Regions from separate parts of the Homo sapiens genome. Here region 2 is linked to region 1. The links come from fine-mapping of genetic effects on gene expression. A gene starts in region 1. The other region holds a variant in brackets. All regions are shown on one strand. Distances are between the middles of the regions. Region 1 holds the start of WDR86 (WD repeat domain 86). Region 2 holds the start of LOC124901780.

What was found. PIP is the estimated chance that this variant, and not a neighbour inherited with it, causes the effect.
Region 2: its variant is the best candidate, but not a certain one, in a credible set for the expression of WDR86 in whole blood (INTERVAL, PIP 0.77).

Annotation. Positions count from the first base shown.
Region 1 is chr7:151,407,307-151,412,670 of GRCh38, forward strand. It overlaps WDR86 (WD repeat domain 86), which reads right to left and starts at 2,732. Exons shown (of 6, transcript NM_198285.3): 1 at 2,121-2,732. The coding sequence starts at 2,283. WDR86-AS1 (WDR86 antisense RNA 1) reads left to right here and starts at 1,855. Exons shown (of 6, transcript NR_109857.1): 1 at 1,855-2,076; 2 at 3,922-4,006; 3 at 4,364-4,486; 4 at 4,661-4,764. RefSeq lists an enhancer at 3,298-3,930.
Region 2 is chr7:151,433,445-151,438,808 of GRCh38, forward strand. CRYGN (crystallin gamma N) reads right to left here. Exons shown (of 4, transcript NM_144727.3): 2 at 4,552-4,800; 3 at 2,736-2,881. LOC124901780 reads right to left here and starts at 2,717. Exons shown (of 1, transcript XM_047421163.1): 1 at 1-2,717. The coding sequence starts at 13. It overlaps MIR3907 (microRNA 3907), which reads right to left and starts at 195; the gene lies at 45-195. RefSeq lists an enhancer at 4,265-5,114. The variant G/C (reference allele first, on the strand shown) is at 2,574.

The DNA of each region.
Region 1 (5,364 bases):
GGTGCCAGACACAGAGCTGGGCAGGAGGGTGGGCCCTGGAGGCTTGGTGAGGCTCCAGAGCTGCCGTGGGGGCAAAGCCAAGTGCCCACCAGGCTACCGGCAGCCTGGCAAAGCCTGGGGCCTCACTGGGGAGAAACCCCACCTAATTGTGGGCTAAGCTGGGCTCCCACAACCCGTCCCCAGCCCAGGGGCTCCCGGGGCCAGCTGTGCATAAGACCCACCCAAAAGCTTGTTAGAAATGCCAATTCTAGGCCGGGTGCAGTGGCTCACACTTGTAATCTCAGCACTTCGGGAGGCCAAGGCGGGTGGATCACCTGAGGTCGGGAGTTCAAGACCAGCCTGGCCAACATGATGAAGCCCCACGTCTAATAAAAATACAAAAAAATTAGCTGGGCGTGGTGGCGAGCACCTGTAATCCCAGCTATTCAGGAGGCCAAGGCAGGAGAATCGCTTGAACCCGGGAGGCGGAGGTTGCAGTGAGCCAAGATCGTGCCACTGCACTCCAGCCTGGGCAACAAGAGCGAAACTCCATCTCAAAAAACAACAACAAGAAGAAATGCCAGTTCTACAGCCCTATTCATGGAGGACTGCATCACTGGAGCCCAGGCCTGGGGATCTGCATTTCTGAAACACCACCCACCCCTCTACCCCCAAGACAGTCTTATGTTTGGGAGCAATACCAACTGGACTTAACATTTCTAAAAGACCTCATATTTTCCATTCCTGGTTGAATGCCTATAAGTGTGTGTGGCTGTTTGGGGGGGATGTGTGTTAGTTTGTGGCCACCTCTCCATTATCCACACCAACTCCCAAGTAACCGGTAATCCAAAAGTCATCCCTGTTGGGTTTGAAATATCTGCCCTAACTATGTAATATTTTTTTCTTTTCTTTTCTTTTTTTTTTTTTTTTAGACAGAGTCTGGCTCTGTCACCCAGGCTGGAGTGCAGTGGCACGATCTTGGCTCACTGCAACCTCTGCCTCCTGGGTTCAAGTGATTCTCCTGCCTCAGCCTCCCGAGTAGTTGGAATTACAGGCGCCCGCCACCACGCCCAGCTAATTTTTTGTATTTTTATTAGACACAGGGTTTCATCATGTTGGCCAGGCTGGTCTCAAACTCCTGACCTCTGGTGATCCACCCACCTTGGCCTCCCAAAGTGTTGGGATTACAAGTGTGAGCCACCGAGCCTGGTCAACTGTTCTTATTTAAAACCAGCAGTATCAGGATTAGCCAATATTGGGGCTAATATCCTACCTAAGTTGGAAGGCCTGGGCGAGGCCACAGAGAGTTCACTGATGATGGTGGAAAAGCCCGCGGTGATAAAGAACTACCCACAGCAGAAAGCCTCGCGGCTCATCCAGGGGACTACGTGTGCTACCTGGGCAGTAGGAGGGCCAGAGCTGAAAGGGACCTCACAGTGCATGGGACAGGCCCAGGGGAAGGTGCACCCGAGGCACACTGACCTCCTGAGTGAGTACAGGGCACAAATAGAAACCAACAGGCATGCAGGCAGGGTTTACAGCAATGAGAGGGCTCAGACTGCCATCTACCCCTCACTGGCTGTGCGACCTGGGCGAATTACTTAACTCCCAGCCTGTTTCCACGTCTGTATGTGGGGTAACATAGTGTGACGACGGCACACTTCTCCGCACCGCTGGCCCTTAACAAGCGTCTACTGTTGCTGTGAGAGTCGTCAACAGGAAATGCCAGCAGAAGAGCACAATTGGCCACAAAGAGGCCACAAGGCACCTAGAGACAAGGGAAGGTTTGCTTAGAAGGAGTATAGGTGCAACTTTTTGTTTGTTAACATTGTTGTCAAGGGAGATTTCCTGCCGCTGGTTGACAAATGATCTTCGCCTTTGTAGCGGACGCCCCTCGACCCACCCACCCGATCCCGGCCGCACCCTGCTCTGCACCCGCACCCCACCCCCAGACCTCACCCTGCCCTGCCGTGCGCTCAACAGCCAGATGCTGGGCCCAGACAAGCGCTCTTCCGCTAGTGTGCCGGGATGAGCGGGGGCTGGACTTCTAGAAAGGGGTCTGCGGGCGCAGGAGCTGGGGTCCGCGGTCTGGGGCCGGTGAGCTGCGGCGAAGAGGTCAGGGAGGGAGTGGGAGGGTCTACCTTGCAGGAGCGCGCAGCACTGGCCGTCCGCGGTGCTCCAGAGCCGGGCCGTGCCGTCCTCGCTGCCCGTCAGCAGGCGCTGCCCGTCGGGGCTCAGGCTCAGCCAGTTGATGCCCCCGCGGTGGTCGGCGCAGACCCTCAGGGCCGACCCGCCGCCCCCCATCCCGCTGGCAGGGCGGGGAACAAGAAGGAGCTGCGCCCCGCTAGGGAGGGGCGCCCCGGGGTCCGCGCGGCGGCTCCGTACGACTGCGGCCCGCGGCCATCGCGGGGAACGGGGAGCCCGACTCCTGCGGAGGCACGCGGCGAGGGGAGGGTGAAGGACCCTAGCTCCCCGCTGCCTCCAGCCTCTGGGCCCGCGAACCCAGGGCGCTGCGGGGGGCGGCCCACTCGGGACCTCCGCCCTGGGTAGAGTCCTGGGCGCGCGGGCAGAGAGAACCCCCTTCCCAGCACCGCTCGGAGGATCCACACCCCACCGGGCGAACAAGGCAGCTGCGTCTCTGGTGCACAAGGAGCCCCCCGCCTCCTCTCGCGCCCACGGGGCTGGGGCGGGGAGAGGAACACGGGAAGCCGAGCGCCCCGCGCCCTCCCCGGCCGAGCGCGGAACAATACGGTCCAGCCTGGCTCCTCCTCAGAGACCACCCCTCACCCGATCCCCTCCCACTTCTCGGGCTGCGCCCCAGCCCCCACCCCGCGCGCCTGCAGCCTCCCCCCTTCGTCGCTGTGCGGGTCCGGGGGACGGCTCCACGTGCGACCCTCCTAGCTGCCCGGGCTGCGCCTCTGGGCTCTGGCCTCTGCCACCTCCGCCGCCGCCGCCTGGGTCCCCTGAGCCAAGGGCCGGGACGAGGGAGGGGGAGGCGGACAAAGGGTCGGGGTCGGGGAGAATCGCGCGCCGGGAACTCATTTGGGGCGCAGCTCCACCGACCCCTCGGCTACTCGCCTCCACCAGGCAAGCCAGGTCCTCCCATGCTCTGAGCCCTAAGGACTCTGCCCGAGGGGCTCTCGGGGACTTGGGGGCGGTCCCCCAATGGAGGGTGCGACAGGGAAAGCCCCGAGTCCGCCCTCCCTGGGAAATCACGCGCACACCCAGGATTCTACTTTGGTCTGGCCGGAGTGGGGATGAGGTGCGAGCCGCTGCGGGGTCGGTGGAGCCGGGATGTCAAGTTCACCTTCCAGCCGCCGCGGGCTCCCTCGGCCTGGGGCGCCTCTAATGGACCCCGGGGTCGGCCTGAGCCCTCCCGGAGCGCCCGGCGGCTGGTTTCCATTAGGGCAGTTCCGGCGCCGACTTCGCTGGGGACGGGGAAGGTGACCCCCCTACTCGGATCCCCCAGGTCCTAAAGGTAGCAGGATTTCCAGAACGCTCCAGGGCTCTCTCAGGAGCCTAGGGAGAAGGGCAAGGAAGGGGCGTCTTTGGCGAGCTAGCCCGCAATGGGACGACCAGTACTGCACGCTCTGCTCTATCCAGACTCCAAAAGAAAACCCCATCGTGGGGTGTCCCAGGCCGTTGGGTCGTTTATACCCAGAGTGGCCTAACCAGAGAAATCCGTTCTTTTCCCTCAAAACTTGTAAAGCAGCTGGCGCCTCAGCTTAAGGAGCGTGGCCCTTCCTTAGCAGGTGGTGGAGAGAGGGGCAGTGGAGGAGCGTTAGGACGAGATTTGGGGTCATCCAGCCGGAGAGAGGGAGGCCGAAAGGAGAGACGTTTTCAGGAGGTGGAGGCTTCAGCATTTGGATGCCTGCGAGGCGGGAGAGGCCGGGGAGCCTGTCTTGTGCTGAGAGGCTGGGTAGACTGTTTTGTCCCCTACAGGCTGATCACCAGTTCCTCTTAGGAACCGGTGAACCTCAGGGGGCCCATTGCACATCCAGGTGTGAAACTGCGGTGTGGCCTCCAGGTGAGGACAGACTCGGTATAGTGGGGATCTTGGGCAGGCCCTGCGGCTGCAGCCCTTGGGGAAGGTGAATGTGAGGACCATGGAGGCTGGGAGGGTTTATCCGGAGAAGTGCCAGAGGAAACCCAAACTTTCTGGGCAGAGGGGCCAAGGAGAACCAGGCATCGACTCTTTTGGAAACTAAGAGGGGAGGGGTTTGAAAGCAGTTTGGGAGCTGGGGACAGATCGTAGGTTGGGCGAGCTTGCCTGGTCGTGGGCCAGAGGAAAGAACCACCAGGAGAAAAGCTTAACTTTCAAGGAGGTCACCCAGGATTCCTGAGCAAGGTGGCACCCATGCACTCTGGTTCCTCTCCTCTGCAGCCAACACAAGCCATCAGCCCCATGCTCAGCTCCCAGCAGGCAGAGCGTTCAGAAGCGCCAGCGCCATCATCTTGGGAGCCTGCAGTCCACACACCGCTGACCTTACCTACTTCCTCTTTCCAGGTTGATAGATTTTTTGTTCTTGGCTTCTCCACCTCCCCCACCCCTCCTTCTCCGGTTTGGCACAAAGTGGCCCCCTGGTGGGGATGAGCCAGCCATCTCTGGGGGTTGAGTCTGGACTGTAGAGCTGTGGGTGCAGATGTCCTCAGCCAGCCTGTCTTCCCTTTTCTCTTGCAGGTCGTAGATTACAGACTCTCCTCTGGGAAATTGCCCCCAGATCTAACAGGAGTACAAGAAGCTGGGTAGATTGGAAAACAGCACCGAATTCCCCTGGAACTGAGGTCTCCCCTAATTCCCCTGAAACTGGGGTCTCCCCCAACCTCCACCTTAAGATAGCAAAGCTATAGAGACCCAGGAGTCAGGCTGGGTCCCCAGCAGAACCTGGGCTCCCTTCCCCTTTCACACCTTTAACTCTTCTGGAGCCTCCAAGAGGGCCTGGAGTCCCGTGGTGCCCAGGCCCTCCTGGACCTAATCACTTTATAAATGGAAGGCACCTTGGGAAGGGAACCTGGTAGGGTGTAGGAGGAAATGGTTAAGCTTTAAGAAGCAAGAAATGGGCAGTGTTTAACAAGTGAAGGGTTGGGGGGCGGGTGCATTTTGTGCCAGGGAGTGCTCATTCCCCGTGCCACAGGGACTGCCACAATTTACCCTGCTGGAAAGAGTGACCCTCTGGGGCCTCTCTGAGAAGCATGGTGAAAGCTGGATATTCCTGAGTTGTGTGTGTGTGTGTGTGTGTAGGTGGTGACAGAGGGAGGCACCTTGAGGGGCGCCCACAGGGAACGTCATAGCCAGAGCTTTGTCAGAATTGCTTTTTCCCTTCTGGCACAACCTGCAATGCTGGTGGTGAGGGTGCCTGTGGTCATCATCTTCATAGTTTGGGT
Region 2 (5,364 bases), 26 kb after region 1:
TGAGGCTTGTCATGCCTGGTGCCTGGCACAGTCTGCTGCCTCAAGGGTTGGGGCCAGGAAGGAAGAGAGAGAGGCAGAGGGTGTGAGCCAGCCTGGAGCACCTGCTGGGGGACTCAGGGCAGGCCTGGTCCAGCCTGGACCCCACCCTCATGGCCCCCGTATCCATGCCCCTCCACACCTACAGCTTTCCAACCCCACACCTGTGCCACAGCTGGGGCCTCAGAGGCACCTCAGAGAGTCAGCTGGTCCTTTCCTACCCTGTGGTGGGCAAGAAATGCCCCAAGCCATGTCCTGGGCCACATGAGGGTTCTCACATGGACACCCCCAAAAGGAGGGGGCGGGGAACCACCCATCCTGCTGTCCCCTGTCCTGGCTGTGGCTACTGGGAGGAGGCAGACAGAGGAAAGGGCAGGGGCCTGTCCTGCCCACATCAGCACCGTGCCCTTCCCCAGGTGAGGGTAGGTGGAGGCAGAACGCCAGTGCATTTCCCTCCGAGAGCCCACCAGGACACGGGTCTGAGGGGATGGGTCATGCCTGGGCTGATGTGGGACCCAGAGGGAAGGAGTCTTGGCAGTGGGAGGTGGTGGAGGGACCCTGCCTTGCCCACTCCCCCGACCCCAGGAAAGGCCTCCTAGCAGTGTCCCCTCCGGATCGAGGGGACCTGGGGGCGTTACCTCCTTGACAAGGGCTTACATTTGTGTAAGAGTAAGAGTCTTAGGCGGCAAAGGCTGAGCTCCTGGGTCCCCCACCTGGGGTCCCGATGGCTGGCTCCTCTCAGGGACAGTGGGGATTGTGTGCCCCTCAGTCAGAGAAATGTTAGCCTCCACCTTCCCCACCTTCGTTCTCAACAAGCCCCTGAGCGTTGGGGGTGGGCCGGGGGGATTGTGTCTAGGGCCTCAGGACATCCTCCACGCAAAGGCATGACTTGGGCCTTACAAGACACAATTTAGCCAGCAAGTTTTCCAGGGCAAATTCTTGTTTTGGAATGCCACCCCTGGGCTCCAGGTGCCACCAATTTAGGGCAAAATGCAATTTCGTAAAACGGAATCCTGGAGCCAGCTAGAGTGACAGAAACAGCAGGAAGGGGGCCAACATCAGGCCACCGGGGAAAGGTGGGATGTACACAGTCCCTCCCTATCCCTGGGAACTGGTTCCAGGACCTCCCTTGGATATCAAAATCCGAGGATGCTCAAGTTCCTGATATAAAATGGCACTGTATTTGCATATAACCCATGTGTATCCTCCCATATATAGTAAGTCCTCACTTAACACCGTCAGTAAGTTCTTGGGAACCGTGGCTTTAAGCACATGATATATAACAAAGCCATTTCTCCCCTCATCAATTTTATAATGAATCCACATTGAACAAGATGACATATTTGAGGACCTGCCATACATTGTTTCACTTAAAGTCACAGTTTCCAAGAACCTATCCACAATGTTAAGTGAGGACTTACTGGACTCGAAATCATCTCCAGATTACTTATGATACCTAATCCAACATAAACGCTATGTAAATAGTTGTACAGTATCTTTCAGGGAATAATGTACATATTCAGCATAGACACAATTGTGGGGGGATATTTTCGCTGTGCGGTTGGAGCCCATGGACATGGGGTACCACCTGTGCCCAGCTCTGCCTCGGCCCAGTCTCTGTCTCCCTGCAGTCCCTCTGCCCCCTGCATCCCCTCCGAAGCTCCCTGGCCTTGAACCTCTGTAGTATAGACGGCAAATTGTTCCTCAATTGCTTCGATAGGCGCCAGAACCATGCACAGCCAGCTGGAACCTGTGTGAGGGGCTCTTGGCCTGAGGGGAGGGGACTGAGGCCTGGGAAAGCGGCTAGCTCTGGAACAGGGACAGACACAGGCTTGGCTGCAGTCTCAGCTGTGCCACTCCCACGGGGCGGCCGGGCAGTCAGCCTTCTGAGTCTCAGCTTGCCCTTTGTAGAACGGGGGCGATAATATCTACCTGACCTAGAGGTGTGGGCTGGACAATGAAAATACATGGCCAACTTGAAGGTGCTCAGAGGATAGTTGCAAAAGGGGAGTGTGCGGGAGGGCAGGAGGGGGCACACAGGCTGCCCTTGGTTGACCAGGAGGAAACCCAAGTGTGGGGCAGACAAACCCATCTGGGCCTGGGCAAAATTCCCCCAGCTACTTTCTGTCCAGGAGTGAGCCACCCCGAAGTCCATCTCCTCCCAGAGGCCAGGGTGGTGGGGGTTTGCAGAGAGGCCCGGTTCAGGGGTCAGCTCTGCGGGGTAGGCGCGGGGGCAGGGTGGGCTGGTCCACCCTTCTCAGAGCAAGTGAGCCCACTGTGGCTTTTCCAGCCCATAAGGCCCTGGAGGACCCCTTGGTAAGCAGGTGTCCCCCGGTTCAAGAAAACCAAAGGCGGCCCCTTGTATCAGATCAATCGCAGAGAACCGTGCAACTTTCAAGGTACTCTCCTACCTCTGCTCCTGGACTGAGGCCCTAGAGGGAAGGTCTCAGGGTGCCTCTGGGGCCCAGAGTCCCTCTCTGAGGCCCTTCTGGGCCACAGGGGAAGCTCCCCGCTGCTTGACTGGGGCAGGTGAGGCA[G/C]CTGAGGAAAGGAGAGGGCCTGTGGGGCCAGGGACACGCTGCCCACTGCTGGAGGTCTCATTCCCACCCCACCCACCACCCCTGTGTGGCGGGCAGCCTCCCACGCCTGGTGCTGAAGGGCCTAGCCGGGCCTCGGGGTGCGGCCACGTGGCCTGTACTCACGCTCCGTCCCCGTACACCTTGATGGTGTTCACACAGTTCTTGACCCAGCCCCTGCTCTGGAGGAAGGGGCTGTCCTCCAGGAACTCCAGGCACTGGCCCGTGAAGTTGCAACCCTCGAAGATTTCTAGGCGGAAATGTTCTCCGTGCTCCAAGACCAAGCAAAAAAGAAGGAAAGAAGGAGGTTGCTGTGAATTCCCCTCTCCCAGAAACAGAAGCCCCATGCAGGAAGGAATTAGGAGGTACCCAAGGCACTGGGCACCCCCACCCCACACACTTCAACCCCACACTTCTGTTTGTTCTTCCACATGAGATGTGGTTGGAAGAAAGGGTTCTATTACTCTGAAAATGTTCCAAGCCACTGAGCTGGTCCAAGCTCCTCTTTCTACAACTAGAAAATCTGAGGTCCAAAGAGGGCCAAACTGACCAGAGGCCAGCGGTCACACTCAGACCAGGGCTGGGGTCACGGGGCTCCCTCTGGGTGCTCAGCGTGGGGGACTCCGGCCCTGATCACAGCCACACACTCCGGGTTCTGACTTCCCCACCCCTGGGCCACAGCCCATGGGCAAGCCTTCAAATGATAACATTTTAAAACTGTAATAGAACCTTTTAGTAAAACATAAAGCCAAAAATCTAAAACAAATACCAGATCTCATGTGCTGAAACCCCTGCTGGCCTTGACATCATTGTCCCCTAGGCTCAGCACATCTCCCTATATGATTCCCGCATTTCCAAAAGACAGAGGAGGGCCAGCCCCTGCCTGGCTCAGAAGCCGGCAGGGCCTGGTCTGCGTCACAGCTGGCCCCAGGCTAGCTCTTAGGAGAACAGCAGTTCGCAAGATACCAAGGATGTTTTTCATATAAATAGCATTATGCAGGGTCCAGGGCCAACCATTTAAATTTCTTTTTTCCAAATGGACCACAGCCTGGAAGAAATACTAAGGAAGCATTCTTACAATTTGAGATGCCAAAGCCCAGCTGGTTTTGCAACTGATACAGAAAAGAGAGGGGGCACCACACAAAGGCCCCTTTACTGGGGTTCCTCAGATGTTCACCAGAACCACCCAGCCCAGGCGTCGGGGGAGGGTCCTCAGCAGACATAAGCGAGACGCTCTGTGATGAGAGATGCACGCCCCCAGGCTCAGGAGTCCGCCACTCCCCACCTGAAGCTCCAGAGCTCACAGCAGGTCAGTGAGTACCCATGACCTGGGGGAACGGCCTTGCTTAAATCCCACCCTAGGAGCAGCTGGACCGAAACAGTCTTTCGCCACCGGGGAGCCATGCCCCTCGTCTGCCCTCCCTGCACACACCTCTTGGGCGGCAGCTACCTGTGTAATTCCAAGGGACCTGCCCCCCAATTTTCCCCTGACAGGCGGGTGATTCTTCAGCTTCCTCCATCAGCCATTCCAAGACATGGAAGGCTCCAGAATGTGCCACAAGACCACCTGTACTAGTGGCCACACTAGGCCCAAATCAGCCTCCCATTGGCGGAGTGTCCCCTATCTGGCTGGAAATCTAAATTTGGATGATTTCAACAGCATTTTAAATGGAAAATGCAGCTAGATTTTTGGCTCCGAAACTTAAAGTGGTTTATTGATACCTGTATGAAAACTCAGGGCCACTCCCACTCAGTTCATAGCAACTTGGCCCCCCACCTACTCACCTCATGCCAGCAGGTGGCTCTGGGTATAGCTCCTTCAGTCTTACAGACTTTAAAGCCGGGAGGACCACGCTCCCCGATTCCTTGCCACTGTCTGCCAGGGCTGACCCTCGGTCCCTCCAGCAGGAAGACTCAGCCTTCGGTGGACGGGCCCACTCACCATTCCTACAGGCCGACAGGAGCCCATGTGGTCACTGTGGCTGTTCCAGCGGAAGAAGTCGGGGTAGTCGCCGTGCTCCAAGATGAACTGCTGGCCCCGGAAGTCGGGGTGATTGAAGCAGACCCAGGCTCCGCTCTCCACGTGGATGGAGTTCACTCGGTTCATAAAGCCCCGGTCCTGGAAGTTGTCACAGTCCCCGAAGACCTCCAGCTTCTGCCCTGTGAAGTGCTTGCCTTCATAGAGAGTGATCTAGAAAGGGCAGGTTACAGAGCTCAGGGTCAGGGGCTTCTCTCCGTCAGCGTTGGAGGCTGGCGTCTGGGTCCCAACACCCTGGATGGAACCCCTACTCCCAGGCCCCCAAAAGCCCAGACCTGCTGCACACAGTAGGTGCCCAACACTATTTGCCAATTGGGCAAAAGAACGAACAGCTGGCAGGCTGATGCCATACACAGCTACTGTTCCTCCCCACCCTTAGGAGCTCACAGTGGGGCAGACAAATTTCAGCAGCGATTTGGGGACAGGGGTTTCCCCTTTGTCTAGGTGCCCATTTCAAAATGGGCTGTTTTCAACTTCCACTGCATTTTTAACTCATTTTTTAATTATTAAAACATAAAGCCGATAATAACATTAAAGGAGGTGTTTTCAAAAGAAGAAATTTCACCCACAACCCTCTCATGGTAACCCAGCATATATTTTGCAGAAATTCGGGTTCCTGGGATTGGGCCTCCTTCACTGGAGAGGCTGAATGGGCCGAAGCCGCGTCAGGGCCTGGCTCGGGATTAATGTTCGCAAAAGAGGGCTTATAAGTGCCAC